Linked DNA regions of Homo sapiens. The protein of the gene in region 3 purifies or fractionates together with the protein of the main gene of each other region. This does not show direct contact. Each region holds a gene or a part of one and is shown on either strand. Other genes may lie near its edges.

Region 1 (4,372 bases), on a different chromosome or scaffold from region 3:
TACCCATATTTATAAATGAGTGGTATTCAAATCATCTCAAAAATAAGTAAATTTTCATTAGCACAAGATCACAGATACCTTGGATTTCAAACCCATATTCTCTAGCTCCAGAATAAGTTCTTAATTCCACTGTAATACAAGCCACACTTGTATCTCATGCTCAGTACTTTCCAGTTCAGCTCCTCAGCTTCAAGTAAACTTAATACAGATCTGAGTCTCCAAAATCAGATCCTTTCCTAATATCCTAGAATGAGTGGCTTGAAGCAGCCACGTCTAACGGGAAAAGTTCTGGGCTAGAAATGAGAAGAGCTGGGTTCACTATTACTATGTGTTTTGCTATTAAGTGCTCATATTAGGACAATAACCTCTACATTAATAACAAAAATGAATTACGATAAAATAACCATACAAAACATAAAATATCAGTGACAGTTACTATATAAACTGATAGATATTTACTATATAAACATCACAGCTCAAAATGTTGAATTCTAACATTAGCAAGCCCTAATATGAAAGTCCGTTTTGTTTTTTGTAGGGAGAAATATCAGCAGATTTAAAAAAATAGTCACTAGAAAACAACCTGAGCATAAATAAAGGATATGATATGACACACAAAGCCAAAACGGGTTTGGACTCTGGAAAGGGGTGCATATAATCCCAAATCAAAGCCACTATGGCAAAGAAACAGGAGATTGTACAGATGGTGAGGCGACCATCAATTAGACCAAAATTCTCCACATATTTGTATTTTTCCAGAAGTACCTGGTGAGAAAAACAAGGAATCAAGCTAATAGGAATACTTCCTCCCCAGTATGTGCTTTTATTCTTGATTTCCATGATAAAAGAATCATATGAATTACCAAGTAGTTCCCTCCAGTTGGGATTTTACCACACCAAACAAGTAAAACTCAAGCCTTCTATAAAGAACCAAGAGAAAAAGTTCATCAATCCCTCATATAAAAAACTTTAAACTCCTCAACTTTTCCCACAGCTAAAATGTTTTACTTTTACAAATGGAGAGATGATTTATCATGAATGAATGTCCTATCTTCTCTCACCCTTCTGTGCTCTAGGCTAATTAATCTCAAAAACAAAAAATTACCAGCTTTCTTGAGATAGCCAACATCTATATTTCTTTTTTTTTTAATTTTATTATTATTATACTTTAAGTTTTAGGGTACATGTGCACAACGTGCAGGTTTGTTACATATGTATACATGTGCCATGTTGGTGATATTTCAACACACTTCCTCTGACTTTTTCTGTGAGAAATTTTAGAAACTGCTTTCTGACTTAATTTCTAACACTGAAAACTAAGGTCACTCCAAGTTACAAAAGGAAAAGATTTCCCAGGAGAGATGGCCATCAGCTGTATAGATACTAACCAACCCCTCCTCAAGAAAGTACCTTTTTGGCAGAATCATCCAAAGAGTTTTTCACAGCTGATCCATCCCACTTGTCAATTTTTACAGGCTTATCATCTATCTTCCACTGTAAAACAAACAAAAAAGTTGTGCATCAAGAAACCTGGCCTCTTACTGAAAGTAAAATGAACCATTTTTTAAGAGCATCCCTCATGCACATATAATATTTACTCTTTGTCTTCTGATGTTGCAGAACTAAAAGACAAAACAGGCTATTCTGGGCACACTCCTATGGGGTAGCCCTGCAAGAAGCAGTTAAAAACAAACAAAAAAGACCAAACAATTAAAAATCAGGTTGAAAGAGACTAGGTCACTAGAGTCAGGTGGTACTCATGTGATGCTGATGTTGCCAGTCTCCATGCAGAGAATATAAAAACAACCCCAGAACCAGAAAACGTATATGGGCTGCACAGACTGTAAGTGTAAACTTGTATATCCCACCTTCATTTTACCGAAATGTGAGTACAGAAAATTACTCTATTTGTTCATTCTTTCTTTCTGTGACCACAAAACTCAGAAAATACAGATACATGAATTTACAGATACTAACAAAATGGGGAGGATCTCCTTTAATATCACTTTGTCAGCTAACAACTTTTATTATTTTACCAGCATGTCTTAACTTTAAGATAGCAATTCCAGGATAGCCTGTTGGAAACAACACTACATTTTAAATTACAAACCAAGTCCCAGACTCAGTCCCAACACGAGTTGAGTGGACAAACTCTACTTCTATTTCCCTTATCTATAGAGGTTTAGAAAGTTTCCCAAACACTGCTATTCAGAAGCAAATAATTCTCTCACTGCTCATGTAGAAGTTCAAAATGTTACAGCACCTACGAATGCCAACTTAGCACCCTGAATTCAACTTCCCACTTCCAGGAATGTTTCTATAACTGAATACATGTGAAATGAAATACAAGGCTACTCACTGCAGCATTGTCTGTAATAGTGAAAAGCTGGAGGTAACTCGAGTGCTCATTTACAAGGGGATTGGTTAAACAAACTACGGTACATCCAGATATCTTATCAGGGTAGAGAAATACGGGGAGGAGTAAGATTACTCTATGTGTGCCTTTAAAATTTTTTAACCATGTGAATATATTACATAGTAAAAAATTTTCTCAAATGCAAGTATTTAAGTAAATATAGCTTAAGAGGAACAGGGTGCTACAAATAATCTGACAAACCTGTTTTTTGTAGACCATTAATGGCCAACTCTTAATTTTTTAGATCAAGTGAACAAATATTGTATTCCATAAAAATTACAAACCAGCAAGCAATCCAACGTTCATCTGGATTTAGAATGGATTATTTTACTGAAAGACAGAGAATGTCATATTTATCTTTCGGATTGAGCACAAGTACAAAGATAATGCCTATAAGAAATAAAGAGATGGCAGTGGTGAGTACCTGCCATCCCAGATACTTGGGAGGCTGAGGTGGCAGAACAGCTTGAGCCCAGGAGCTCGAGTCCAGCCTGGGCAATATAGTGAGAGCTTGTCTCTGAAAATAAATAAATAAATAAATAAACAAACAAACAAACAAACAAACAATAAAAAATAAAATAAGAGATGGGATAAAAATAATTGTAAAGATTTTAAACAACTACAGAAATACAATTCATCAACCTTGTTTTTTTTTTAACTGTGATTCTATATATTATTACACAAAAGAGAAAACCTGTTCTGTGAAGTTTGTTAGAAGAAATAACATGAGCTAAAAATAGCCATACTTAAAGTGATTAAAAGTCAATCAAGTTTTTTTTCCCCCTTGGTGCCCTGTAAAAGCAAAAATTTTTCTTTGAGAAAATTACTCATGGCAGCATACTGCACTATTGACTGCCATAGACTGCCAGCCTACAAATCAAACACGACATCTAATTTTAAAGATACAAACTGAACCAAAAAGAAATTAGCAGGTTTTCTAGCTAGATAGCTCATTTACACTGTCAAGTAAATCCCTCTTTGAAGACATGCAAAAGAACCAACTTGTAGAGCCAAATCCACCATAGCATTTGAATTATTTGTGAAATAAAGTCAGAATAAAGTCATTTAAAAATTATGGGTCATTCAAAAACAGGAAAATCATATTCTCAGACACCTAGCCACACTTCACTGCCTGCATTGCATCACAGAAAAGAAACTTGCCTTTAAAAGTCAGAGGATAATGTCTTAACCAATTTGGGAGAATAAAATGCAGAAGCAGCCATTACAATGTATTGAAATAGCCTCAGCTCTAACTTCACTGCCTGGTACCTAGAAGCAATCTTCAGTAAGTGGAAAAGAAACATTTCCAGTGAATTACATGAAATCACAAGAAAGGTTATAATTTGACTTTACGGCAACACAGCCCATTTCGAAGCAAGTAATGTCTCTACTACAGTATGGAGAACCATCTGGAAGAAGGGGAGTTGCTATTAGGTGCTTCTTTTTCTGATTATTACTTCTCATCATGCTCAAAAACTGCTCATCAACTAAAATGTATGCTGCTCCTCATGTTCTCTCTACTACTAATTCGGGTATTTTAAAAGCTATCTTTTTTTTTTTTTTGCCTCAATTTTGTCTTCCTCAACACTAATTGCAAATTGCTTTCCTTTTGTAATAATAAAAAGAGAAAGCAAAAATTAGTTTCTTTTATGTGGGACCTCACAGGATAAATTAAAAAGAAGGGCAGTGTGCAGAAATAAGTGAACCTGGGTCCAAGACTGCCATCTTTAGCAAGGCTTGTTTGCAAGGTTGGCCCTTGGCTGGTATCTGACAAGCTGGCTGATAAAACAAATCCCTACACTGATATAAATACATTCCCTCAGTGATAAGAATGGCTCACTGTGCCTCAACTGTTTGTATAAATGATGTGATTTATGTTGAACACCTTTCCTTCTGGAAATCTAGAAAAAGTTCTTTATGTTGCCAGTATCTAAAATTTCAAGATGATATCCCTTA
Region 2 (4,842 bases), on a different chromosome or scaffold from region 3:
ATTCTCTATTATTATTATTAAAGAATCCCCCAGAACTTGTTTACGTTAAACCCTGTAAACTTCCTGCCAGGGCCTTTGCCATCTCTCGGGAAATCGGAACCTGCGCTTTGAAAACGGGGCCGCGGGGCCAAATAGGCGGGTTTTCAGTGTGTGTTGGGGGTGGGGGAGGGCAACTGAACTACGTGTGAGTTCAGATCCGAGCGTGGCGTGTGTACGCGTGAGTGGGAGTGAGTGCGAACTTAAGCTCCTGTGGGCCTTAAGCTTCCGTGTCAACGAGTGCATTAGTGGGTGCGCACATGCCTGAGCGCCCTCTGCATATGAGTGTGCACACACGCATGGGTGTGTTTACACGTCTGTTTGCGTAATTTACCGGGTTTGCATGTGCATCAAGACATGTATGTGTGTGCTAATGTGTGGACAAGAGCGCGAGGGTGTGCGCGCACGGGTGAGTGACTGAGCACGCCGCTTATTCAGGGGCCTGTGCGGTCTGGGTCGCCTCTGGGCCAGCGGGTTCTCACTCGCCCCCGTCAGGCCCGCGGCGCCCGAGACAAAGCGGCCGCGACTCGTGCTGCGCTTTCGTTTTCCGCCTGCGCTCTGCCCCGGCGGCTGCCCGCCCGCTCGCAAGCTGCTGGGCGAGTCCGAAAAATCCCGGGAGCGGCGCAGTTCTTCCCGGGGCGGGGAGAGTGGGTAGGCGGTCCCTCGCGGGAACTTAGCCGGCCGGCCGCGAGGACCGGAGTCGAGCCGGCTGTGCCTGCGATGGTCACGACCGGGAGGCCGCCGCACTTGCGATTTGCTACAGGGCTGTGCGCGTCGGGGAAGGCCCCGGCCCAGGGAGCGTTTCCCGCCGCGCCGCCCGGGCGGGGAAGGCGGGGTCCAGCGCGCACCGGGGCTGAACCGCGGGCGGAGGGCGCATTAACACTTGCTCGCCAGGTTGGTGGAGGCGGGGCGGATTCTGCTGGCGGCCGCGGGGCGGCGAGAGTGGGGGCTCTTTAAGCGCCCACCAACGCGGGGGCCCGAGGGGGGCAGGGACGGAGGGAGGGAACTCCGGGAGGGTCTTAGGCCGACCCGCGAGACGCAGCCGAGCGGAGATGGAGTGAAGGCTGCCTCGCCCGGAATCTCGGAGCCGAGCGCCGCGGGCGGCGGGGACTCAGGGCTGCTCCCGGCTGGGGCGCACGGCCGTAAGACCTGGAGGTGGTGCCTCCCCCCAAAAAATACCGGCGGGGGTAGCTTCCTCACGGCCTTCGCCCGGGCTGCCCTCGGCCTCAGCTCGGCTCCTTTCCTTGTGGGAGGGCGAGAAAGAAAGAGGGAGGAGAGAGGTGGGGGAGGCGGGAGTTGGAGAGAGAGGGGCTCTGAGCCAACCGCCGGCGGATCCAGCAGCTCCTCGGGGAGGGCGGGCGGGAGCGCGGGGGCGGGCGCGCCGCGGCTCGCTCGGGAGAAGTGGCCGCCGATGACGGCAGAGGTGCAGCCAGCCCCGCGCGCGCAGCCCCCTCCCCTTCGCCCTCCTCCCCCCCGTCGTCCTCTTCCTCCTCCTCCTCCTCCTCCTCCCGGCCCGTCCGCGGCGCAGAGCAGCGGCGGCAGCGGCGGCGGCGGCAGCAGCCACCCGATGTCTTCGGCGCCCGAGAAGCAGCAGCCACCGCACGGCGGCGGCGGCGGCGGCGGCGGGGGAGGCGGCGCGGCCATGGACCCCGCGTCGTCCGGCCCGTCCAAGGCCAAGAAGACCAACGCCGGCATCCGGCGCCCGGAGAAGCCGCCCTATTCCTACATCGCGCTCATCGTCATGGCCATCCAGAGTTCACCCACCAAGCGCCTGACGCTGAGCGAGATCTACCAGTTCCTGCAGAGCCGCTTCCCCTTCTTCCGGGGCTCCTACCAGGGCTGGAAGAACTCCGTGCGCCACAACCTCTCGCTCAACGAGTGCTTCATCAAGCTACCCAAGGGCCTTGGGCGGCCCGGCAAGGGCCACTACTGGACCATCGACCCGGCCAGCGAGTTCATGTTCGAGGAGGGCTCCTTTCGGCGGCGGCCGCGCGGCTTCCGAAGGAAATGCCAGGCGCTCAAGCCCATGTACAGCATGATGAACGGGCTCGGCTTCAACCACCTCCCGGACACCTACGGCTTCCAGGGCTCGGCCGGCGGCCTCTCGTGCCCGCCCAACAGCCTGGCGCTGGAGGGCGGCCTGGGCATGATGAACGGCCACTTGCCGGGCAACGTGGACGGCATGGCCCTGCCCAGCCACTCGGTGCCCCACCTGCCTTCCAACGGCGGCCACTCGTACATGGGCGGCTGCGGCGGCGCGGCGGCCGGCGAGTACCCGCACCACGACAGCTCGGTGCCCGCCTCCCCGCTGCTGCCCACCGGCGCCGGTGGGGTCATGGAGCCGCACGCCGTCTACTCGGGCTCGGCGGCGGCCTGGCCGCCCTCGGCGTCCGCGGCGCTCAACAGCGGCGCCTCTTATATCAAGCAGCAGCCCCTGTCCCCCTGTAACCCCGCGGCCAACCCCCTGTCCGGCAGCCTCTCCACGCACTCCCTGGAGCAGCCGTATCTGCACCAGAACAGCCACAACGCCCCAGCCGAGCTGCAAGGTGAGTGGGGAGGCCGAGGGCGCCCTGGTCCCCGGGAAGTCGAGTCTGAGTGGCAGCGGGACCCAGCTGGGGCGAGCCCCTCCACTTCTGTGGTCGGAACCCCAAGGCTGAGGGGAGGCACCAGCTCCCCAAGGTGTCTCTTGGCCCCACCTCTCCCCCTTCGAAGAGTGACTACCGCTCTTGACCCTAGTTTGGGCCAATCTGTTTCTCTTTCTGTTCGAACTCCAGCTGCCAGCTGCTCCAGGCCTGACCAGGTAGGCTGGTCCTGAGCCAGATGTCCCAGACCCCAGTGCCCTAAGTCCTTTTGTGTCCCTTAAGTCCCCTCACAGCTTGGAAAGATCCTGGGATGGACCCAAGGCTCCCAGCGCTGGCCAGATGGCTGTCCCTCCCTGGTGGTGGCCCTCAGGCTGCCTGGAGGGCTGCCTCTGCCTGGGGCTGGGCGGAACGGAAGGTGTTAGGCCCAAAGCCGCTGGGCCAGCGCTCAGAGGCTCAGCCCCGGCCTTTCAGGGGACCAGACCTGGCAGACCCACAGCTGAGTCCAGGGGCATTTTGTGGTGACTGAGGCAGGAGGGTGCCGTGGCCAGGCCCCGGAGGGTCAGAGCTGCAGACCGGGCCATGGGGGCTCCTTGTTTTTTAGGATCCAAGTTTTCAGGTCCCCACACCCCCAACACCCCTGATACCCCAATACCCCGAACATGCAGAAGCATCTGCCAAGGGAGATGCAGCAGCCTCGCCTCCTGATTCTGCCCCAGGCCCCCCGCAGCCTGCAGGCCCAGCTCTGGAAAAAGCTGGAGTGAGCTTGCCAGGGCCAGTCCAGGGTCAGCTGTCAGCAGCCCCAGGAGGCAGGAGCCAGGCCTGGAGGCCTTAGGCAGCCTCTCTGCGGGGGACTCCCCGGCTCCGGGGCCTGTTCTCTGGAGAAGCTTCTTCTCACCCCTGCTGCTGGCCCGGCGCTGGCCCTGCACTGGCCTCTCCTTCAACCCCGCCGGCAGTCGTAGCCTCTGAGGTTGGGGGTGGTGGTGGCTGCCCTGGCGGTGACGGCCATGGGCGTTAGGGGCCCTCCACTTGGTCTCCCTCACCACTTCCCCTATGGCTCTGGAAGCCCTGGGCCCCTGCACGGTGTCCGAGGCTGGACAGGCACGCAGCAGGCAGGCAGGCAGGCAGGCAGGCAGGCCGTGGCAAGTGTTCTGGAGTCTTTTCCTTGGGTGCGCAGCTGGAAGGCCGGGACTCGGGGAGGAGAGCGGGGAGGCGGCCGTGCTCTGGAGCCAGGCTGACAGGCCCTGTGCGCCCCACGGGAGCACTGCTCCTCTGCCTGAACTCTGAGCCACCGTGGCTAACTCTTCTGCTCCCCCAACCCCTCCTGTCGCCTCGCCTTGCAGGCATCCCGCGGTATCACTCGCAGTCGCCCAGCATGTGTGACCGAAAGGAGTTTGTCTTCTCTTTCAACGCCATGGCGTCCTCTTCCATGCACTCGGCCGGCGGGGGCTCCTACTACCACCAGCAGGTCACCTACCAAGACATCAAGCCTTGCGTGATGTGAGGCTGCCGCCGCAGGCCCTCCTGGTGCAGGCAGGCGGGTCACAGGGACCCTGGACCGGCACAAGAAACTGCTTTCTTCTCGAGGTATAACCGTCGGCAGAAGAAAAGGGTTCCACCTCTCCCCAACCGGAGTTTTTGGCAAGGAGTCCCCAATGCAAAGACACAGCGCTGCGGTTGGCACCTCCTTCCTCACTCCTTCAAAATTGTTAAGAAATGTTAGTGGTGGGTCTGATCTGACTGCAGCCATCGGTAAATAAAAGTTTTTGATCCTGTTGAACCCGCCTGAGACGGTGCTGTGCAGGGGAAAGCCCCCGCACCCACACAGGAATTCTGCTGAGGTCCCCCCTCCTTCCGGCCAATGGCAGAAGTGGGGGAAAATTTTTAGAAGAAAAGCAAACATGTGAGACCAATCATTATCAAATACTTTTATTTTTTGGTTGAGTATTTATCTTTTTATTTTTTATTTTTTTTTTGAAAGAATGTCTTGGAATGCGCAAGTCTCCCTTTAGAGCCGTCTTTTGCAGGGAGCGGGAAGTGACAAGAGCTCAGATCTCCCTCCCGATCTCCCTCCCCACCTCCGAAGTCTCCTCCGTGGACCACAGGTGGATCTTTGTGCGAACAACTTGCATTTCGGAAGCCACTGTCCGTCTTTAAACAGAAAGTCAAAGGAGCCACGAAGCAAGCGGCCGTCCGGGCGTCCGCCTCCGTCCCCTTCCATGTTCCT
Region 3 (4,125 bases):
GCAGTCATTCCGCAGATGGGAAATGGAAGCTCAGAAGCCATTTGTCTGGCCTCATGCCTCCTCTCCACGGGAAGAAGCTCCTAGTTCTTTCATTTCACCCCCTTTGCACCCACATCCTTGTTCCTCCCTTCAATCAACCGTCTCTGACACTTCTTTGAGCAAGGCCCTGGCCTGGACACTGGGGGCAGAGGAGGGATGGATCATTCCTTCCAGCTTGTTGGGGGAGACAGAAAGGAAGATAGATGCTCACAAGGGTGCCTGGTTGGTGTGGGGACAAAAGAGGGAGTGTTCTGATGTTTTGGGGCCAGGAGTGCTGGCTGTGAGAGCTGACAAGTGAAATGTGTTCCAGGCCTAAGGGCCAACATACAGACTCCAAGGGGTACCCCGGGGTGCGCAGCTAGATAGCCAGGCCATGGCACATTCCATGGAGCTGGAAGGAGTAGAATTGCCTCCTCCAGGGCACAGCATGGGGTGAAAGAGTCCATGCTATGGACTGAGAGTAGAGTTTGGAACCAGAGAAAACTGGGTCCGCATCCCTTCCACTGCCTCCTAGCTATGCAGCCCTGAGTGGTTCATTGGGCTTCTCTGAGCCTCAGTTTCCCCCTCCATAAAATGAAGGGTCTTGAGGACTGGACCACACAGTGAGTGTGCAGGGCCCTGTTCATGTCTGTGGTGAGGAGTAGGCTCAGGGGGCTTGAAGCGGGTGGGTGGCCCCTCCTGGATCTTCTGGGAGGGCAGCAGAGTGGGGGAAGGCCCAGGCTGGAGGCTGGGGCAGGGGGCCTGGAGCTGATCATGGCCTCCCCTCACGGCCCCCCTAGGCGTGATGTTATCTACTCAGTGAGGGTGGGGAGTCCGTGGATTGACCAGATGACGCAGACCGCCTCCGATGTCCCGGTGCTCCAGGTCATCATGCATAGCAGGTACCGGGCCCAGCGGTTCTGGTCCTGGGTGGGCCAGGCCAACGACATCGGCCTCCTCAAGCTCAAGCAGGAACTCAAGTACAGCAATTACGTGCGGCCCATCTGCCTGCCTGGCACGGACTATGTGTTGAAGGACCATTCCCGCTGCACTGTGACGGGCTGGGGACTTTCCAAGGCTGACGGTGAGTCAAAGCCTCTGCAGACCAGGGCGGGTGCTGTGAGAAAGGACGTGGGTGCAGGCCAGGGTGCCACCACAGATGGATGTTTCTGAGGCACCTTCCCCAGGGAGCCTGCCGCTCCCGGGACCTTCCTGCCAGGCTCTCATCTCTGAGGTCTCCTTCCCCTTGAGGATCTCGTGGGGAACACCTCACTGCTGCTCCAGCCTCAGGGGACCCTGATTGCCTTTGAATCCTGAGTCAGGCCAGGGCATGTAAACAGAACTTCCTTGAAGGCAGAGAGGCACAGAGTAATACCTCACAGTCCACACCCACTGCCCAGGCATCGGCAGCTTGCAGCAGAGCACCTGAGGTCGGGGGAGCAGTCTTCTGTGTTGTAAAATGCTGCCCAGAAGGCCCACATGGCTGGCTAGGGGCCGTCTGCAGCTGGAGCTCATGGTTTCCCCTCCCCTCAGTGGGCCTCAACTCCTGGTCGTCCCAATTCAGGAGCAAGGCCCAGAGAGCAGGTGTGTTCTCTCAGGAACATCCAGGGGACCCTAGAACTGTCTACTTCCTTCAGGGGGTCCCCAGCCCATAAGAGAGATGCCCTTCCCTGTGGCCTCAAGGAACCAACTTACTCTCAAAACAGCTCAAGGGGGCTTCAGCCCATGTGGGAGGACCTGGGAGTGACTTTGTCATCCCTGCTGTGGCCTGTCTCCTGTCTCCCAGGAGCTTAGGCCAGGGACAGGGACACACTACTCAGGGAGGCAGAAGGAAGAAGCAGTGCCTGGCCTCCATGGAGGGGTCTGGGAAGGCTCAGCAGGGAAGAGGCCTGTGGGAGAAGGGATGCTTGAAGAGAAGGAAGGCTTGGCAGGCCCTCAGGAGGGAAGGAGTGGCAAAAGCCAAGAGGCCGAGTGTGGTGGAGGTGGTGTCAAGGGCCCCAGTGGCCTGGGCACTGCAGGAAGCGAGAGCAGGCCCGGCAAGGCTGGGTTGGGGGTACTCTGCTCCGGGGGCTCTGTGTTGAGGGCCCTAGATGGGTATGGGCTAGAACGAGGGCAGAGGTGTGTGGCTAAAGCAGAAAAGGTGGGACGTGGGGAACAGTGGAGAGAGGACGAGTGAGGCTGGCGGTAGTGGGCAGCGGTGAGTGGCTGCGCCTAAATGGGGCCCTGTCCCACAGGCATGTGGCCTCAGTTCCGGACCATTCAGGAGAAGGAAGTCATCATCCTGAACAACAAAGAGTGTGACAATTTCTACCACAACTTCACCAAAATCCCCACTCTGGTTCAGATCATCAAGTCCCAGATGATGTGTGCGGAGGACACCCACAGGGAGAAGTTCTGCTATGTGAGCGGCCTCTCCTCGCTCACTCCCCTTCAGGGGCACCTGGGGGAGAGGCATCTGGGGAGGGAGAGCGGAACGGTGGAGGTTGGGTAGGGGAAGGGAAGGGGGTGGGCAGGACTCTGGGATATGGGGATGGAGGATGTCGGGGGAGACTGGGAGGAAACAGATGGGGGCTGGGAATGGGGATGGCTGTTGGAGGTGAGAGGAGTGGGGGGTCCGTGGGGAGATGGAGGGTGGGTGTTAAGAGGTGGGGGATGAAACCCTTTGAGGAAGAGCTCCTGGGTCTGGAGCACTTCTCACCTATGTTGGCACTGGGGGACTGTGGAGGTGTGGTGTGAGGACATCCCGCCTGTCCTGGAGCTGGGTCGTCTCTGGCCTTGCCTGGCCTCCCTGACCCTTACTCCCCCAACCCTTCCCACAGGAGCTAACTGGAGAGCCCTTGGTCTGCTCCATGGAGGGCACGTGGTACCTGGTGGGATTGGTGAGCTGGGGTGCAGGCTGCCAGAAGAGCGAGGCCCCACCCATCTACCTACAGGTCTCCTCCTACCAACACTGGATCTGGGACTGCCTCAACGGGCAGGCCCTGGCCCTGCCAGCCCCATCCAGGACCCTGCTCCTGGCACTCCCACTGCCCCTCAGCCTCCTTGCTGCCCTCTGACTCTGTGTGCCCTCCCTCACTTGTGGGCCCCCCTTGCCTCCGTGCCCAGGTTGCTGTGGGTGCAGCTGTCACAGCCCTGAGAGTCAGGGTGGAGATGAGGTGCTCAATTAAACATTACTGTTTTCCATGCCTCCTTCTTCCCCGGCCTCAGAGGCCCCACGTTTCCTGGGCCTGCTCTGTTGGGAGTCCACAGGTGAACCAGATGAGGGTGAAGTGGGGAACTCCAGGCAGTTTACACTGAAAATTGCAGAGCCTCCAGGATCTCCCCCATTCAAAGGTTCGGGGTGGCTCCCGCAGAAGGTGGAGGGGGTGTGAAGGGGTGATATTAGGGTCAGATGATCGAGGGGCCTGGAACATACCGCCCAGGCTGAAGCTGGGGCTGCCAGGACCCAGCTGGGGTGCAGCTGTCTGGGCTGGAAAGTGGGTGCTCTTTCTGTGATAACTGTGGGAGTCGGGCTTTCCTTGACTTTGGCTGATTTCTGGCAAGAGGCTAGAACACAGCATTTCATTGCCCCAAAGAGCCATAGTGAACTTTGACCCTCTGTCTCTGTCTCCTGTCTGGAGACAGTGACAGACACCCACTGGAGTCAGATGTTATTCCAACCACCAGCAGCCAGGCCTGCCCATAAAAGGCTAGTGGTGGCCCCATGTCAGGGGAAGGGCAGGTGGAGCCTAGGCCTGGACTTCCCCAGTCTTCAGCAACTGCTGCTCTGTGTGACCCTGAGTGGCCCCTACCCCTCTGGACTTCTGCTGCCTGGCCACATGGGAAAATTCTGCATAAATAGAATGGCCTTTTTCACCCCTATGTATGAGAAGCCCATGGGTTGGACCCCAAGGGCAGAGGTCGGTCAACTGCCTCCATCTGGTGTCAGAGTCCTCAGCTTCCATGGCGGGGCCTTTGGCCATGGCTCTGCCCCTCACTGCTCCTAAGACCCCATGTCATGCGCTTTCCTCATCAGCCTGGATCACTCTCCTCCCTGTACAGTGATGATCCAGGTCCAGGTCAGGAGCCAGGTTTGACTCTTCTGTGTCCCCAGCACTGGGCACAGAC
Region 4 (4,372 bases), on a different chromosome or scaffold from region 3:
TACAGTTCTTAGTCACACCTCCTCTTCCTAGTTTCCACCCGAAAAATGAAAAACTCTAATACTAGCTTCAAGGTTATTCAACCTCAATCAGCAGAACTGTCAATTCAAATTCTGCCCTCAAGTACTTTTGCTGTTGTCTTTCCTATGTGTGTGACAGCCTCTCTCCTAGATGGCTTTTAGGGAGATAGACCCAGCCTAGTCATTCATTTGTAAAAAGTGCTAGGAATCACGTTTAATAAATGCTTTTGGATATGATAGGTGTGAAGATGGAGATATCAACAGAGCATCATGAAAAAGGAACCTAGGGCTCAGGCATAGTGGCTCACGCCTATAATCCCAGCATTTTAGGGGGCTGGGGTGGGAAGATCACTTGAGGGGAGTTCAAGACCAGCATGGGCAACATAATGAGATCCTGTCTCTAAAAAAAATTTTGAAAATTAGCCAAGTGTAGTGGCACATACCTATAGTTCTAGCTACTCGAGAGGCTGAGGTGGGAAGACCACTTGAGTCCAGGAGTTGGAGGCTGCAGTGAGCTATGACTGTGCCACTGCACTTTAGACTGGGCAACAGAGCAAGGCCTTGTCTCAAAAAAAGAAAAAAAGGAGCCTCAATCTCCACAGTCTCCTCGGACCAACCCAACCTGGGAACCATCACTGTATATAATCCACCTCCAACTCCTGTCCCCTACCCAGCTGAGCCGTCAGGGTCCCTCCCTAGCCTGGCAGAAAAGAAAGACCCTCATCCTTAGGTGCTCACCCAGCCGGGACTCCACTGGGTTGATGACATGGGGGAGGCTGTGCATGTCCAAATAGTAGCTGGAGGAAGCTGAGTCAAAGCGGGGATTCACCCCCAACATTGCATAGTAAAGAATCTGTAGAGCAAACAGGGAGTGGTTACTTTGTTTAGATTTATATTCTACTTTCTCCCAAAAAAGATTTGAGGTGCCTTAAAAAAGACACAATCAGGACAAGGCAACATATAAGAGACAAAATCAGGGCTGAGAGAAAATAATTGCAGAAGAAAATAGCAAAGCCAAGGGTAAACTGAATAAACTAAATACGTGCTTTAAAAATCACGTATTTTACCAGGTTTCCTAACAGTCTACACAAAGAGAGAAACAAAGAACAGCATAATTCAGTGTCTACAAGATCAAATCAAGCCAGTTATTCAGAAGCAATTACTCCCACTAGGAAGACCTGATAAAAATTTCTCCCACGTGTTTTCCCTACAAGGAGACAGCGTGATACAGAAAGCTACATTCTTCACATCTTTTTTTTTTGAGATGGAGTCTCACTCTGTTGCCAGGCTGGAGTGCAGTGGCACAATCTTGGCTCACTGCAAACTCCACCTCCCGGGTTCAAGCAATTCTCCTGCCTCAGCCTCCCGAGTAGCTGGGACTAAAGGTACGCGCCACCATGCCCAGCTAATTTTTATCTTTGTAGAGATGGGGTTTCACCATGTTGGCCAGGATGGTCTTGATCTCCTAACCTCGTGATCCGCCTGCCTCAGCCTCCCAAAGTGCTGGGATTACAGGCGTGAGCCGCCGCACCTGGCCCTTCACATCTTTATTGTTACTACAATAACAAATTTCAGGAAGCATTTTTCTAAAAACTAAATTCCTTAAGAATGGCTCTGCTGGGCTCCATCACTCACACCTGTAATCCCAGCACTTTGGGAGGCCAAGGCAGGTGGATCACGAGGTCAAAAGATCGAGACCATCCTGGCCAACGTGGTGAAACCCCATCTCTACTAAAATACAAAAATCAGCTGGGCAAAGATCAAGACCATCCTGGCCAATGTGGTGAAAACCCGTCTCTACTAAAATACAAAAATCAGCTGGGCATGGTGGCACGCACCTGTAATCCCAGCTACTCAGGAGGCTGAGTCAGGAGAATCGCTTGAACCTGGGAGGCGGAGGTTGCAGTGAGCTGGGATCACACCACTGCACTCCAGCCTGGTAATAGAACAAGACTCTGTCTCAAAAAAAAAAAAAAAAAAAAAAAGATGGGTCATGGCATTAACATCTAAGCACAATTGGTGAGTACAGGTCTAGAGGGAGCTATAGGAAGGTGGTTTGTTAACAAGCACTGACAAACTCTCTCAATAGGATGCCAAGGAAGTAAAGACACCAGAATCTGCCCTCAATGGATGGATGGACACAGACAAGGGCACACACGCACCCCCAGTACCCACCCTTATGACACTCACATACATATACACACAGGAAATTCCTAGCAAATCAGCAAGCTCTAAGAGATGGAGGAACAGACTGCACTTGTAAATATGTATAGACATTGAAAAGGACTCCTCAACTTGCTCCCGGTCTCACCTGAGAGTCCACAGAGAAGTTGCCAGCGGCACCGAGGGCATTCAGGAAAGGTTGCACATAGCGCCGGACAGCCCCCTCAATGTCCCAGTAGACATCATGGGACTTGGGGTCTGGGTTGAGTAAACTGAAGGTGATCTCATAGCCTACAGAAACAGGAGTCAGGGAAGTCAGAGGCTCTTGTGGATCAAAGAAGAGGGGCAGCCTGTACTCCCAGCTGAGCTGAACTTGTTTCTCCTCTGGAATGGGGCTGCTTTCCATCATGGAACCAAAAGGAGGACAAAACTGGGATGAGGAACACTGAGTAAGAAAAAGCTGCCGGGCGCTGTGGCTCATGTCTGTAATCCCAGCACTTTGGGAGACTGAGGCAGACGGATCACTTGAGGCCAGCACTTCAAGACCAGCCTGGCCATCATGGAGAAACCCCATCTCTACTGAAAATACAAATATCGGCCGGGTGTGGTGGCTCACGCTGTAATCCCAGCACTTTGGGAGGCCGAGGCAGGCAGATCATTTGAGGTTGGGATTTCAAGACCAGCCTGGTCAACATGGTGAAACCCCGTCTCTACTAAAAATACAAAAATTAGCTAGGCATGGTGGTGGGCGCCTGTAATCCCAACTATTCAGGAGGCTGGGGCAGGGGAATCGCTTGAACCTGGGATGCGGAGGTTGCAGTGAGACAAGATCACGTCACTGCACTCCAGCCTGGACGACAGGAGGCTCCGTCTCAAAAAAAAATAAAATAAAAATAAAAATACAAGAATTAGCCAGACATGGTGGCATGCACCTGTAATCCTACTCAGGAAACTGAGGAGTGAGAATCACTTGAACGTGGGAAGCAGAGGTTGTGGTGAGCCAAGATCACGCCACTGCACTCCAGTCTGGGCAACAGAGCAAGACTCTGTCTCAAAAAATAAAATAAAATAAATAGGCCAGGTGTGGTGGCTCACACTTGTAATCCCAGCACTTTGGGAAGCCGAGGCGGGCAGATCACGAGGTCAGGAGATCGAGACCATCCTGGCTAACACAGTGAAACCCCGTCTCTACTAAAAATACAAAAAAATTAGCCAGGAGTGGTGGCGGGCACCTGTGGTCCCAGCTACTTGGGAGGCTGAGGCAGGAGAATGGCGTGAACCCGGGAGGCGGAGCTTGCAGTGAGCCGAGATAGTGCCACTGCACTCAGCCCAGGCAACAGAGTGAGACTCCGTCTCAAAATAAATAACTAAAAAAAATAATAATAATAATAATAACATAAAATAAATAAGAAAAAAATTGAGACTAGAGAAGAAAGGAGAAAGAAGTTGGCATGCAGATTTCCCTCCTGCCCCATGTAATTCATTTCCTCTCCCTTCATGTGGCAGAGCCTGGTGCCCTACCCAAGCTGGACTTGAGAGGCCGCCTCTTCTCAGCGCTCCACTTGTCCTCTGGAAGGTGGTCAGCCAGAGCAGCAGCAAGCACATCCTCAGTCAAAGACATGGCCTGGGCCACCTGGACTATGCGGCGGCCAATGATGTTAAAGGCCTCCCGGTGCATTATCCCCCGCACCACTGCTGTCCTCTTGGGCCCAATGTAGCTCATCATGTCCTGTGGGGGTGAGCAAGAGACAGAATGCCCATGGCTCAGAAAAGAAAGCCAAAAAGCACCCTGGCTCCTACTGTTCCGAATCTGCCCCTTTGCCAATGACCAACAGGTTTGCACCTCTCTTGAGATTCATGAGCTATTAACTCAGCATTTCTGAGCTATGAGTATATATTGAGTATTTTCATTTGTCTCCGTTCTCTTCTTTTTCCCAGTTGACATGGGTCCAGGCAGCATCTAACTCTTCAGGGGCTGGTAAAATGGTGAAATGGAAACTCAGAGATGGCATGCTGAGCAAGAAAAGCGGAATAAACAGACAACTGGAGAGTCTGATATAAAAATGGCACATGGCAAAGAAACAAGTATTCATAATAGCATTATTTCTAACAGTAAAACCTAGAAATAATCCAAATGTCCATTAGCAATAGAATGGGTAAATTATGTTTATGTTTATACAATGATACATAG
Region 5 (3,519 bases), on a different chromosome or scaffold from region 3:
ACTCTTAGGCAAGAATGTTTTTCACCATTATTCTCTCACAATGATTTTATGTCTTTCTTTCCTATAATTTAAATAAATAATTTCAGCTCTACCTCTAAATCATAATTTTAAAATAAATTTTATCTTATTTTTGGTGATATTGAAAAAGATATTCTAGAAATCACCACCATTGAGCATTCTTGTAAAAATAGATTACTCCTTAGCATCAAAAGCAGTCTCTTGAAAGTTTAATATTATATGTTTCAGTGTAACATAATCTTACTGGGAGTGTGTTGAATACACCAGAACTTTTTGAATTGTGTGCTGAATGATGTACATAGTCTAGAAGAAAAAAGCCCAAGTCTTGTGCACATTTAAATCGTGTACATAAGTATTTCCGTATTTCAGTAAAGTAGATAAAGCACTCGTTAAATAGCATTGTTTACATCGACCAAATATTGCCTGTTTCCTTTAATTCAAATGCATTAGGTTCCCGCCTCCCTCTCCTTCCCCGCCATGTTGCTGTTTTAAGGCTTCATATGTATTAACATTTCTCTGATCAAAATTGTGGCTGTTTTCCTTATGAACCATAATATAATCATTTGTGTGATGTACATTGTGCCATTTTTGATGACTAAATGTCTATATTTCTGCCATTCCTGTAAGAGAGGGAGTTTTTTACTGATAGTAGCAAATGTTCACTTCAGTCAAACTTGGGTGTTCAGTGGTAAACCATATAGTATTTAGACTGGTAAAAATAGTTTGCACACAGGAATAGCCTCTGATTTTTAGCTCTCTTGTAATCCAAGTATCATTGTTCATGGAATTCTCTAGGTCATTTTTATTGTGTTGTTCTAACAAGACAGATTATTGCTACAACAATAGTTACAAGATATTTCTAAAATATCCTTTGATTTTTACTCTAAGTATGGTAGAGTAAGAGGCTAAACAAGAAGCTGTTTCCTTGAAGACATTGCTTTCAGTCACCATACATGTCTAAATAATTTAGCTTATCATTCATTCTATGTAGGAATGAGATAAGAAAGGATATGATGGCAGGAAAAGAAATGCTATTCATTTTTTATACTTTAGTTTTATTTTCTTAGGATCTATATCCTATATATATATATTTTTTAAAGCACTAATTTATTGCAGTCTTTATTTTAGAAAAATGTGAAGCATTTTTTTCTCCCCTAAAATGAATATATTTAGATGACAAGTCTTTAGTGCTGGTAGAGGAACTAATTGATTTTGTACTATAGTAGGAAAGTGTTTATATGTTTCACCAGAAATAAAATATGTAGGGTTTGTATGTAATCTTCTGTGTTTATCCTATGTTGATTTACCTTAAATTTGCAACATACATATCCACATAAATATTCATGACTTTCTTATATTTCATTAAAATGTTTTATGGCTTCTTAAAATCATCACTGTGCTTCTAAATATTTTTACGTAAAATCATTGTATAATGCTATACTGTGATATACATGAAAGTTTATCTTGAACAGTGCTCTTTAACAATATTAAATTTAAATTTATCTTGGTTTTGCTATGCTTATGGGTAATTCATAGAAAACAGAAAAAATACTGTTCCCAAAAGGCAGTTATATATTTCAGTTTAATATCACCTATAAGTATGAGAAAGGTTTCCATGTCTCCTACCCCTCACTGCACTTAGGAAAATTCTTATTTATGAATAAAGTAAGATAAGTAAATCTAATTGCCTAGTCGTTTTTTTAACACATATACATGCAATGTATCTGGATGAATAGAAGGCTGAATTGAAGCTTTCTTTATATTTAAGAGGTAAAAAGAAATATTAATACTTTTAAAATATACTAACAACCAAAAAGTGTTCAGAATTTTGCTATAATAATAATTTGTATTAAAATAGTACCTAGAAAAATTCAGTCTATGGAATAGGTAAAATTTTAAAATTTTAATTTGCTCTCAGAGTTCTGTCTGATAAAATAATTGAACTATAATTGGCATGATGAATATTCCCAGGTTTTACTTCAGTATATAAATTTAACTCTCAGCCACATGGGCTTTCCAGACTTTTCAATACATATGATGTTGCAGGAATTGCAATATTTGCAAACATGTGCCACAACAGTGTTCTTGGTGATGTTTCTAAAACAGTTTTTATTCTATTAATGTTAAATTTTCTAACATAAACATTTAATTGATTAATGTAAAATTTTAGGAAGGAACATCTTTAATTTTCAATATGAGATGGTTGCAACCTTTAAAGTAGTACATATTTGATTTTTTTTAAAAGGCAATATTTTTTTTTCTAGGAAAACTATTCATTATGGTTATTTAACTGCATATGTTTTTTAAATTTTTCCCTCTTGGAACAACATGTACTGGGGCCTATCAAAGGGTGGAGGGTGGGAGGAGGGAGAGGAACAGGAAAAATAACTAATGGGTACTAGGCTTAATACCTGGGTGATGAAATAATCTGTATAATAAATCCCCATGACACAAAAGTTTACCTGTGTAACAAACCTGCATATGTACCCCTAAACTTAAATTCTTCCCTCTTTTTGTCTTGGGCACAAGTTTTTGGGATATGGAAAAGTTTATTGTATCCCTTTTGAATTTTCTTCTAAGATGAACTTTTTAAATAAAAGATATTACTGCTTTTATATTTAATCTGTCAACATTTATTGGGACATTTTATGTAGTAGGCAGTATATAAAAAGCACTGGAGATGATAAGATATTTCAGATATTGTTACTGGCCACAGGAGGTTTCAGAGCTATGATTGAGTGATTGATAGAAACATACAAAGGGAGTCATGGGAAATATGGGGAGTTGTTCACTCAGCCTGGGGGCAGAGAAGGGGAGTGGTCAGGAAACCTGAGTTGGACTGACAGACAGGCAATCCAATAAGTAAACATGCAGGGAAGTGGGAGTCTCAATAAGGCAATAGAATTTAGTCCATATGGCTTGAACAAAGTGTATACATGGGAAAGTGTAAACATGGAAATGTAATCTAAGGCCTTGTGCGCTTAAGGAGGAACAAGAAGGCTGTGAGAAACCTAGGAAAAACTTTTTGGCAAAGTTGTAACAGTTAGTTAGACTTGGGTTTTGGAAGATACCCAGCAGTATGGAAAATGGGGCTTATGATAAGGTGATCTATGTTAAAATCTAAAAGTTTTGGTTTGTATTAAAATATGCTTTTTAAATGTACCATAATGAAAAAGAGGTAATTTTAGCTTCCCTTTCCTATCAATCAGTTAAAATGACAAATGCTAAAACTAAATCGAAGCTGCTTTGCTTTCAGAAGAGCAGAATGAACAACAGTCTTGTGACACTTAAGTGGTAATCCAATATGTTAGTTTAGTTTAGCAAAATCTGCACATTTCATCTAATGATAGGAACTTTAACAAAGCAGTTTTCTAAGTTGTAAATTTGGGACACATTGATAACCACTTAAAACTGTATGTAAATCTAATGATTTAACAACTAACTTATGATCTACTTTTTCTGCCACTCATAATTAGTAGTAGCTTGCATTTGGCATTTATC
Region 6 (4,372 bases), on a different chromosome or scaffold from region 3:
ACCAGTCACGTCAGGGTTCTTAGGTATCTGCCATTAACTGGAGATGTCCTAGCGTTCACCATGCATTTCAGGGCCACGAGACTAATGACAGCATCACTAACAGCTAACACTGACTGTATATTTTCTCTGTGTCCCCACTGAACCCAGTGTTTCATATCTATAATTTCACTTAATTCTCCCAGCCTTAGAAATCTACATATTATTATCATCTCCTTTTACAAATGAAGAAACTGAGACTTAGACAGAGTAAGAAACTTGCCCAAGGGTATATAGCTGGTAACTGCTGGAGCTGAGATTTGATCAACAGTCTAACATTATGCTATACCAACTTCTGCTAATTGAGTAGTTACCATGGGCTGGGTGCTTTACATACATATCTCATTGAATCCTCACAGTAACCCTGCAAAGTAGGCACTGCAAAGTGGTCTGCAGTAGCCCTAAAAAGTAGGTTGTCCTCCCTCTGTGTCTCTGAGGTAACTTGTCCAAGATGGCACAGCTAGTAAGTGGTAAAACTGGGATACCAACCCAGGTCTGTCAGAGTCCCGCGTCCTGTAAGACCTTGCCTCCCAAACCCTGGTCCATGCCAGCATCGTTGGCATCCTCTGATAACTTGTTAGAAGTAAAGACTCTGAAGTCCTTCCCCAGACCCCCTCAGTTGGCACCTGGCATTTTAATAAGCTCCTGAAGTTATATGCACAGTGAAGCTGGAGAAACTGCCTTTCACTGTGCTCTGACAGCCCAGGTGTTCAACCAATAAAGAAGCAGGTCTCAGAATCCACAGACTCACTCCTCCCCCTCCATAGTGCCCCTCCCCCACTCCAAAGTGCCCCTCCCCATCCTGGTCACTCCTCCCGATACAAGTCAATCCTCCCCCTCCAAGTTGCTCCTCTCCCTCCTCATCCCTCCTCCCCTCTGTGTCCTTCCTCCCTCTCCATGTTGCTCCTCCCCTCCATGTCCTTCTCCCTCTCCATGTTGCTCCTCCCTGTCCAAGTAGTTCTTCCTACTCCAAGTAGTTCCTTCCCTCCAAGTCACTCCTCCCCCTTCAAGTCGCTCCTCCCCATCCAAGTTGCTCCTCAACCTCCAAGTCATTCTTCCCTCTCCAAGTCGCTCCCCACCCTCCATGCTGTTCCTCCAAGTTGCTCCTGTCCCTCCATGTCGCTCCTCCCCCTCCATGTCCCTCCTCTCCCTCCATGATGCTCCTCCCCTCCATGTCGCTCTTCCCCCTCCATGTTGCTCCTCCCCCTCCAAGTTTCTCCTCTCCCTCCTCGTCGCTCCTTTCGCTCGATGCCAGCAGTGCCTGTGCTCCTTAGGCCTGCTGCTCACAGTCCCTGTTTACTTCATTGTCTTCTTCCTCTGCTTGAACAATGCAGTAAGGGTGGGAATGAGTGATGGGGGTCAGGAGGGTACTGGTTTTATCCCCCTGCCAGAATGAGTATCCTCGCACTGCGGGAACAGGAGGAGGGTTGGAGGGAGAGGATATGGTGCCAGCTGGGAAGGCAGGCCAGGTGCCTGGGCATTGCTCCTTTCCCTTGGGGATGGGGGATGGACGGGCCTGTGGGGAGATGTCCCCTGATGCTTTGGTTTCTCCTTTCTTGCAGCCTCATCTTCATGGTGCCAGTGGCGTGTGGGCTTTTCCCACAGAAATGGTATCTGCTGTTCATTCCTTACTTGGTTTAATTGACCATGCTGCCAGCGCGCTCCCTGATCTGCCTGCTGTCCAGAAGGAGACAGGGAAGGGGCAGGAAGGGCAGCACCTGTCTGAGGACAAGTGTCCATCAGCCTAAAGGCTGGGCCTCTTAACCCTGGTGAATTCTGACAAACGAAAACAGATCTGCGAGGGGCAGGAGAAGCCAGGGACAGGAATAAGGTTGCTCCCTCCCAGTGGAGCAAGCACTGCCTTGAAGAGAAGGTGGGGGAGCAACAACAGACTTTCTCTTCCTGCCAGCTGGGTTATTAGGAAGCTCTCCTCTGGCTGGATCTGGTTTTTAACTTTTTTTTTTTTCTTTTTTTTGAGATGGAGTTTCACTCTTGTTGTCTAGGCTGGAGTGCAGTGGCACGATCTCGGCTCACCACAGCCTCCGCCTCCCAGTTCAAGTGATTCTCCTGCCTCAGCCTCCAGAGTAGCTGGGATTACAGGTGCCTGCCACCATGCCCAGCTCATTTTTTTTTTTTTTTTTGAGATGGAGTTTCACTCCGTCGCCAGGCTGGGGTGCAGAGGTGCAGTCTCGGCTCACTGCAACCTCCGACTCCCTGAACGATTCTCCTGCCTCAGCCTCACGAGTAGCTGGGATTATAGGCACGTGCCACCACGCACAGCTAATTTTTGTATTTTTAGTAGAGACGGGGTTTCACCATGTTGGCCAGGATGGTCTCAATCTCCTCACCTTGTGATCCGCCCGCCTCAGCCTCCCAAAGTGCTGGCACTACAGGCGTGAGCCACCGCGCCTGGCCTCATTTTGTATTTTTAGTAGAGATGGGGTTTCACCATGTTGGCCATGGTTGGTCTTGAAATCCTGACCTCAGGTGATCTGCCCGCCTCAGCCTCCCAAAGTATTGGGATTACAGGCGTGAGCCACCGTTCCCCGTTGGTCGTTAACATTAAATAAGGGGGCTGGTCGTGGTGGCTCACGCCTGTAACCCCAGCACTTTGGGAGGCCGAGGTGGGCAGATCACCTGAGGTCGAGAGTTCAAGACCAGCCTGACCAACATGGAGAAACCCCGTCTCTACTAAAAATACAAAATTATCTGGGTGTGGTGGTGCATGCCTGTAATCCCAGCTACTTGGGAAGCTGAAGCAGGAGAATTGCTTGAACCTGGGAAGTGGAGGTTGCGGTGAGCCGAGATTGCACCACTGCACTCCAGCCTGGGCAACAAGAGTGAAACTCCATCTCAATAAATAAGTAAATAAATAAATAAATAAATAAAGGGACAGGCAGAGGGCTGACAACCGAAACCCCTCTATTTCCTTTGTGTGTCCAAGAAGGAGGAAGCAGGGAGAAGGGATGATGGAAAAGGGAAGGGATACATCAGACTAGGGGGTGGAGGGTGACTGACCCCAGGAGACAAGTGTAGCTTGAATATATACCCAGACAATTCCAGTCTCCCCTTCCTCAGTACTCTAGTTCAATACTACTTCCATGGTCATCTGCTAGACATCTCTTGTGTCCCAAGCACTGTGTTTGTAATCTTGTGGAGAAGATGGAAGTTGAAACGAAGAACCATAGCCCAAGGAGAATGAAGTCAGGCCTGCGTAATGGTAAAGCAACATTGTGGTATACAGAGGCCAATAATAATCCTAGATGGAAAAATCAGGAGGGCTTCTTGGAGGTGATATTCATCTGAGGGTAACTTACTGCTTGTTCCTGGTGGCATGCTCATAATCCACTTCTCTCTTTTCAGTGAATTGCCAGTTTCCTATCTGGAACCGAAGCTCCAAGACACTATCAAGGCCAAGTATGGAGAACTTGAGCCTTATGTCTACTTCAATAAGGGTCTCTAAATGCCCCACTTCAGCAAGGACCAGTCTATTCCCATATTCACCAGCTCCTCCTTAGCTACGTGCACACTTGTGTCCTCCTTCCCCTTTGCCAACAAGGCCTGAAGGCCAGGGTAGATTGGGGGGTGGGACAATGAATGCCTCATACTTACACCCTGGTACTGGTTGATTGGACCTCAGGGGAAAAAAGTGAAAAAGGGTAGCAAAGGCCAATGTCTTCTAGCTGCTTCCTCAACCCCTGTCCCCTGGAGACCAGAAGCTGAGGCCCTCTCAGGGAGGAGACATCCAAGCAAATCATTTGGAAAAGTTAGGAAACCTTTAGGATTCTGGTTCCAGCCAGGGTTGAGGAAAAGACCTTGGATCAAAAGGAAGCTTCTATACCTCTTTCTTCTTCGCTTCCTCCTCTCCCAAGCAATGGAAACTTTTACCCATGTAATTCTAGCTGAACTCAGGAAAAAGAAGGGGGAAAGGACTCTGTCCCCTTGGGGCTCATCACCCTTCCACATCCTCCTCCTCGTTGCCCCCTGGTCAGGCAGCTTCTTTTTTTTTTTTTTCAAGATGGAGTCTTGCTCTGTCGCCCAGGCTGGAATGCAGTGGCGCGATCTCGGCTCACTGCAAACTCTGCCTCCTGGATTCAAGCGATTCTCCTGCCTCAGCCTCTCAAGTAGCTGGGATTACAGGGCACCTGCCACCACGCCTGGCTAATTTTTGTATTTTAGTGGAGACGGGGTTTCACCATGCTGGCCAGACTGGTCTCGAACTCCTGACCTCAGGTGATCCGCCCGCCTCAGCCTCTGAAATTGCTGGGATTACAGGCATGAGCCACCACACCCAGCCCGGACAGCTTCTTTGGGAGTGCTGCTAACCTTGAAATTA
Region 7 (4,372 bases), on a different chromosome or scaffold from region 3:
GTCGGCTTCTCTCCACTTTGAGATCAAAGCATGCTAAGGTTACCAGGTAATAAGATCTCCCAGAATACTCACTTTTGTAAATGTTTCTGAAACTGATATCCCCTTACCAAATACACCAAACATCTATATTAAGGAGTACAACTTGTTAAATGGAAATCAGTCATTAAACAACATCATTCTTGTCTTATCCTACTGGGCCAGGTTAAATGTCTTTTGTTTTCTGTTTTGTTTTCGAGATGGGGTCTCTCTCTGTAGCCCAGGCTGGAGTAGACTGGTGCAATCATAGCTTCCAGCCTTGACCTCCTAGGCTCAAGCAATCTTCCCAATGAGGTATTATATATTACAAAATAGTTAGAAGTTTTCGAATGAAGAAATGATAAACACATGAGGTGACGGAAATAACTACCCAGATTAGACTATACAACATACACATGTATTGAAACATCAAACTGTACCCCATAAATAGATCCAATCATAATGTATCAATTAAAAAATTTTAATCCGTAACCCCAAATAATGCAAATTAAAACACATAAACCAAAAATAAGACATGAACATTTTAAAATTTGATATTGTCAAATTTCTCCTAGAAAGGCTATGCCAATTTACGTATCTACTAACACGAAATGCAAAGACCCTTTCTTCACATCCTTGCCAACATTTTCCTACCCAGTGGTATGTACTGCTGTTCTTTTTTCTTTGCTTGCCCGCCCCCCGGTTTTTTTTTTGAGACAGAACCTCACTCAGTTGCCCAACCCAGGGTATAATGGCATGATCACAGCTCGCTGCAGCCTGGGGCTTAAGCGATTCTCCCTCCTTAGCCACCTGAGTAGCTAAGACACAGGTGCACGCCACCACGCCCAGCTAATTTTTCATTTTTTTTGTAGAGACAGGGTTTCACTATGTTGCCCAGGCTGGTCTCAAGCTCCTGGCCTCAAGTGATCCTTTAGCTTTGACCTCCCAAAGCGCTGCCACCACACCTGGCCGCACTGCTATTTTCATATTCAAATTCCTAACTCCTAGCAAGACTAAGCATCCTTTCATGCTTCATTGGTCTTTCGTTATTCTTCAGTGAATTGCCAACTTTGCCCATTTTTCAGCTGGGTTTTTATTTGTAGGAGTACTTTATTATAGATATTAACCTTTTGTCACTTAGGTATATTACAGATTATTTCACTCAGTTTATTGTCTTTAGCTTTGATACTATTCTGAATTAAGAAATCAATTTGGAGAGATGTCATCTTGCTTCCTCACCAGCCTTCCTGGGTGCTCTCCAGGACCGTAGTATGAACATACATGCAGGTCATCTTCTATGTCCATCAGCAAAGTTTAATATTTATTTTTTATTTTTATTTTTTTGAGACAAGAGTTTCATTCTTGTCGCCCAGGCTGGAGTGCAGTGGTGCGATCTCGGCTCACTGCAACCTCTGCCTCCTGGGTTCAAGCAATTCTCCTGCCTCAGCCTCCCTAGTGGCTGGGACTACAGGTGCCTGCCACCACGCCCGGGTAACTTTTTTGTAATTTTAGTAGAGATGGGTTTCACCATATTGGCCAAGCTGGTCTTGAACTCCTGACTCAGGTGATCCACCTACCTCGGCCTCCCAAAGTGCTGGAATTACAGGTGTAAGCCACCGTGCTCGGCCATCTTTTGTACATTTTCCTATCATTTCAACTACATTGCAGCTTTCTTGAGAATAGAAACTTTTCTCTCTTTTGTTTGTCTTTTGTTTTTGAGACAGTCTCACTCTGTCACCCAAGCTGAAGTGCAATGGTGTGATCACGGCTCGCTGCAACCTCGACTTCCTGGGCTCCAGTAATCCTCCCCACTCAGCCTTCTGAGTAGCTGGGACCACAGCGCACCACCACGGCTGGCTAACTTTTGTATTTTTGGTAGAGACAGGGTTTCACCATGCTGCCCAAGCTGGTTTTGAACTCCTGTGCTCAAGTGATCCACCCACCTTGGCCTCCTAAAGTGCTGGAATTACAGGCATGAGCCACTAAGACCGGCCAAGAACAAAAACTTTTTTTTTGTTTGTTTGTTTGATTTTTTGAGACGGAGTCTCCCTCTGTCACCCAGGTTGGAGTGCAGTGCACAGTCTCGGCTCGCTGCAAGCTCCACCTCTCGGGTTCATGCCATTCTCCTGCCTCAGCCTCCCAAGTAGCTGGGACTACAGCCGCCCGCCACCATGCCCGGCTAATTTTTTTGTATTTTTAATAGAGATGGGGTTTCACCGTGTTAGCCAGGATGGTCTGGATCTCCTGCCCTCAAGATCCGCCCGCCTTGGCCTCCCAAAGTCCTAGGATTACAGGCGTGAGCCACCACGCCCAGCCAAGAACAAAAACTTTTAATAGCTACAAGCTGCTGCTCTGAATTGTGTGCCAGTGCCTTGCACATAGTGGGTGGTCAATAAATGAGAGTAATGATTACTCAGAGACTGGCACTCAAAAGAGCACAGGCCAAACAGCTACAGAGGGAGCTGCATATGTGAAGCAAAAGCTTCTTGGAGTACTCCACATCTTACCCACTATATTACTCCAAAAATATCAACTGTCCCATATCTGAAATGTATGGACACCATAAGATCCAGTATGGGGTTTGGTAGGATGAAAAGTTTACAACCTACATAACAGCTAACAACAATCTAAGCAACAGGGGAAGGAGGGAAGGAGACAGACTAGAGGGGGAAGGCCCGGGGTCGTGGATCTCAGAAAGACTCCTCTAGCTACAGTAGATACACACTACTGATAACTAGCTACAGTAATACACACTACTAATAGACACAGCACTACAGTAGATACAGCACTAATAACCATTGGCCTACAGGAAAATTTGAATAGGAAGCCCTTCATCTAAAACCACCGCTTGTTCTTCCGAGGTTATGTAGGTCAGTGTTTAGGACAAAAATAAAGTGACAACTTGAGCATACCGTGGATCGAGCTGCAATGATAATTCAGAATAGGAGAAACTCACATTCCATGTTGACACCCTTCTGTAATGACAACAGCAGATACAGCCACAAGAGAATGCAGCCTCAAACATGATCAACTCACTGCCCCCACTTTAAAACGGTCCTTAAAGGCAGCTGTTCTGGAATCTGCCTATGAGGAACACAGAATCTCCAGCTTCCACACGAGTCAGCCTCATCCCTGATCCTTATGGGGTAAAAAGCACCATGGTTCCGAGACTAAAACAGCATTTTCAAAATCAGTGCTAAAATCCTAAAAATGAACCTTGGTATGAGTATTTTCAAAATGAGAAACACAATCTGGATGCACGTTTCTCCTATTCCAGTCATTTGAGAAACTCATATCAAATTCTTACTCTTTCAAAAGACTCTAAACAACTTTTATAATTTAGTATGGAAAAATAAAGCAGCTTGTCAAAGTTAGCATTTAATTCTGAATAAATGATCTGGGTGATTTACTTAAAATCAGGAAAACACACAAACCAGGACAGAAATCATCCTAAGTCTGAGAACAAGAACAATTTAATAATGTCCCGGGAATACTTGGCAAACACACACACACGAAGTTAACTCATCTATTTCACTTCCTTCGTTAGCATTTTAGCTGAAGTATTTCATATTTTCCTTATATGCTCCTGAATCTCTCAAATGAAAACAGTGAATAGTAAAAAACAAACGGCCAGGCGCAGTGGCTTACGCCTGTAATCCCAGCACTTTGTGAGGCCGAAGCGGGCGGATCATGAGGTCAGGAGACCGAGACCAGCCTGGCCAACATGGTGAAACTCTGTCTCTACTAAAAATACAAAAATTAGCCGAGCGTGGTGGCAAGCGCCTGTAGTCCCAGCTAATCAGGAGGCTGAGGAGAATCGCTTGAACCCGGGAGGCAGAGGTTGCAGTGAGCCGAGATCACACCATTGCGCTCCAGCCTGGGACACAAGATCAAAAGTTCATCTCAAAAAAAAAAAAAAAGAAAGAAAAAAAAATCATTATTCTGAAGTTGCACTAAATTCTCCCAAATATCTTAGTTTGGATAAAAGTTTAGGAGACAGCACACTTCAAGGCTTAATGATTTGCCAGAGGAGGGGATTCTGAAAAACATATGGAAGAAAATGAAGAGACTCACACAAAGATTTTGAAGCAAAACTAAAGATTAAAAGTAACATCGCCGGGCACTGTGGCTCACACCTGTACCCAGCAACTCAGGAGGCTGAGGAGGGAGGATCGCTTGAGCCCAGGAGTTTGGGGCTGTAGTGAGCCGTGACACAGCCATTGCACTCCAGCCTGGGGGACAGAGTGAGACATCGGTCCCACTGTTTTAAACAAACAAACAAACAAACAAACAAAAAAACTAACATCATCTGAGTGTAACAAAAAAGGATCTAAACATCGTGGTTTGGTATCAAATG

What was found.
Region 1: the proteins of PRSS50 (region 3) and SPCS2 purify together in Homo sapiens (affinity purification with mass spectrometry; 2 studies listed by BioGRID and IntAct, with this or other methods). This does not show direct contact.
Region 2: the proteins of PRSS50 (region 3) and FOXF1 purify together in Homo sapiens (affinity purification with mass spectrometry; 2 studies listed by BioGRID and IntAct, with this or other methods). This does not show direct contact.
Region 4: the proteins of PRSS50 (region 3) and PIGS purify together in Homo sapiens (affinity purification with mass spectrometry; 3 studies listed by BioGRID and IntAct, with this or other methods). This does not show direct contact.
Region 5: the proteins of PRSS50 (region 3) and SLC25A40 purify together in Homo sapiens (affinity purification with mass spectrometry; one large-scale study listed by BioGRID and IntAct). This does not show direct contact.
Region 6: the proteins of PRSS50 (region 3) and SFXN2 purify together in Homo sapiens (affinity purification with mass spectrometry; one large-scale study listed by BioGRID and IntAct). This does not show direct contact.
Region 7: the proteins of PRSS50 (region 3) and KDELR2 purify together in Homo sapiens (affinity purification with mass spectrometry; one large-scale study listed by BioGRID and IntAct). This does not show direct contact.

Annotation. Positions count from the first base shown.
Region 1 is NC_000011.10:74,962,156-74,966,527, reverse strand, and holds part of SPCS2 (signal peptidase complex subunit 2), read right to left. Parts: intron 1,495-4,372; coding exon 1,411-1,494; intron 766-1,410; coding exon 605-765; intron 1-604. UniProt on the Homo sapiens protein: Component of the signal peptidase complex (SPC) which catalyzes the cleavage of N-terminal signal sequences from nascent proteins as they are translocated into the lumen of the endoplasmic reticulum.
Region 2 is NC_000016.10:86,508,967-86,513,808, forward strand, and holds the start of FOXF1 (forkhead box protein F1), read left to right. Parts: upstream 1-1,560; 5' UTR 1,561-1,603; coding exon 1,604-2,582; intron 2,583-3,958; coding exon 3,959-4,119; 3' UTR 4,120-4,842. UniProt on the Homo sapiens protein: Probable transcription activator for a number of lung-specific genes.
Region 3 is NC_000003.12:46,711,195-46,715,319, reverse strand, and holds the end of PRSS50 (probable threonine protease PRSS50 precursor), read left to right. Parts: intron 1-818; coding exon 819-1,102; intron 1,103-2,252; coding exon 2,253-2,419; intron 2,420-2,837; coding exon 2,838-3,074; 3' UTR 3,075-3,203; downstream 3,204-4,125. UniProt on the Homo sapiens protein: May be involved in proteolysis through its threonine endopeptidase activity.
Region 4 is NC_000017.11:28,557,720-28,562,091, forward strand, and holds part of PIGS (GPI-anchor transamidase component PIGS), read right to left. Parts: intron 3,911-4,372; coding exon 3,703-3,910; intron 2,473-3,702; coding exon 2,330-2,472; intron 872-2,329; coding exon 757-871; intron 1-756. UniProt on the Homo sapiens protein: Component of the glycosylphosphatidylinositol-anchor (GPI-anchor) transamidase (GPI-T) complex that catalyzes the formation of the linkage between a proprotein and a GPI-anchor and participates in GPI anchored protein biosynthesis.
Region 5 is NC_000007.14:87,832,682-87,836,200, reverse strand, and holds the end of SLC25A40 (mitochondrial glutathione transporter SLC25A40), read left to right. Parts: 3' UTR 1-2,633; downstream 2,634-3,519. UniProt on the Homo sapiens protein: Probable mitochondrial transporter required for glutathione import into mitochondria. Glutathione, which plays key roles in oxidative metabolism, is produced exclusively in the cytosol and is imported in many organelles.
Region 6 is NC_000010.11:102,734,264-102,738,635, forward strand, and holds part of SFXN2 (sideroflexin-2), read left to right. Parts: intron 1-1,598; coding exon 1,599-1,646; intron 1,647-3,399; coding exon 3,400-3,499; 3' UTR 3,500-4,372. UniProt on the Homo sapiens protein: Mitochondrial amino-acid transporter that mediates transport of serine into mitochondria. Involved in mitochondrial iron homeostasis by regulating heme biosynthesis.
Region 7 is NC_000007.14:6,477,446-6,481,817, forward strand, and holds part of KDELR2 (ER lumen protein-retaining receptor 2), read right to left. Parts: intron 1-4,372. UniProt on the Homo sapiens protein: Membrane receptor that binds the K-D-E-L sequence motif in the C-terminal part of endoplasmic reticulum resident proteins and maintains their localization in that compartment by participating to their vesicle-mediated recycling back from the Golgi.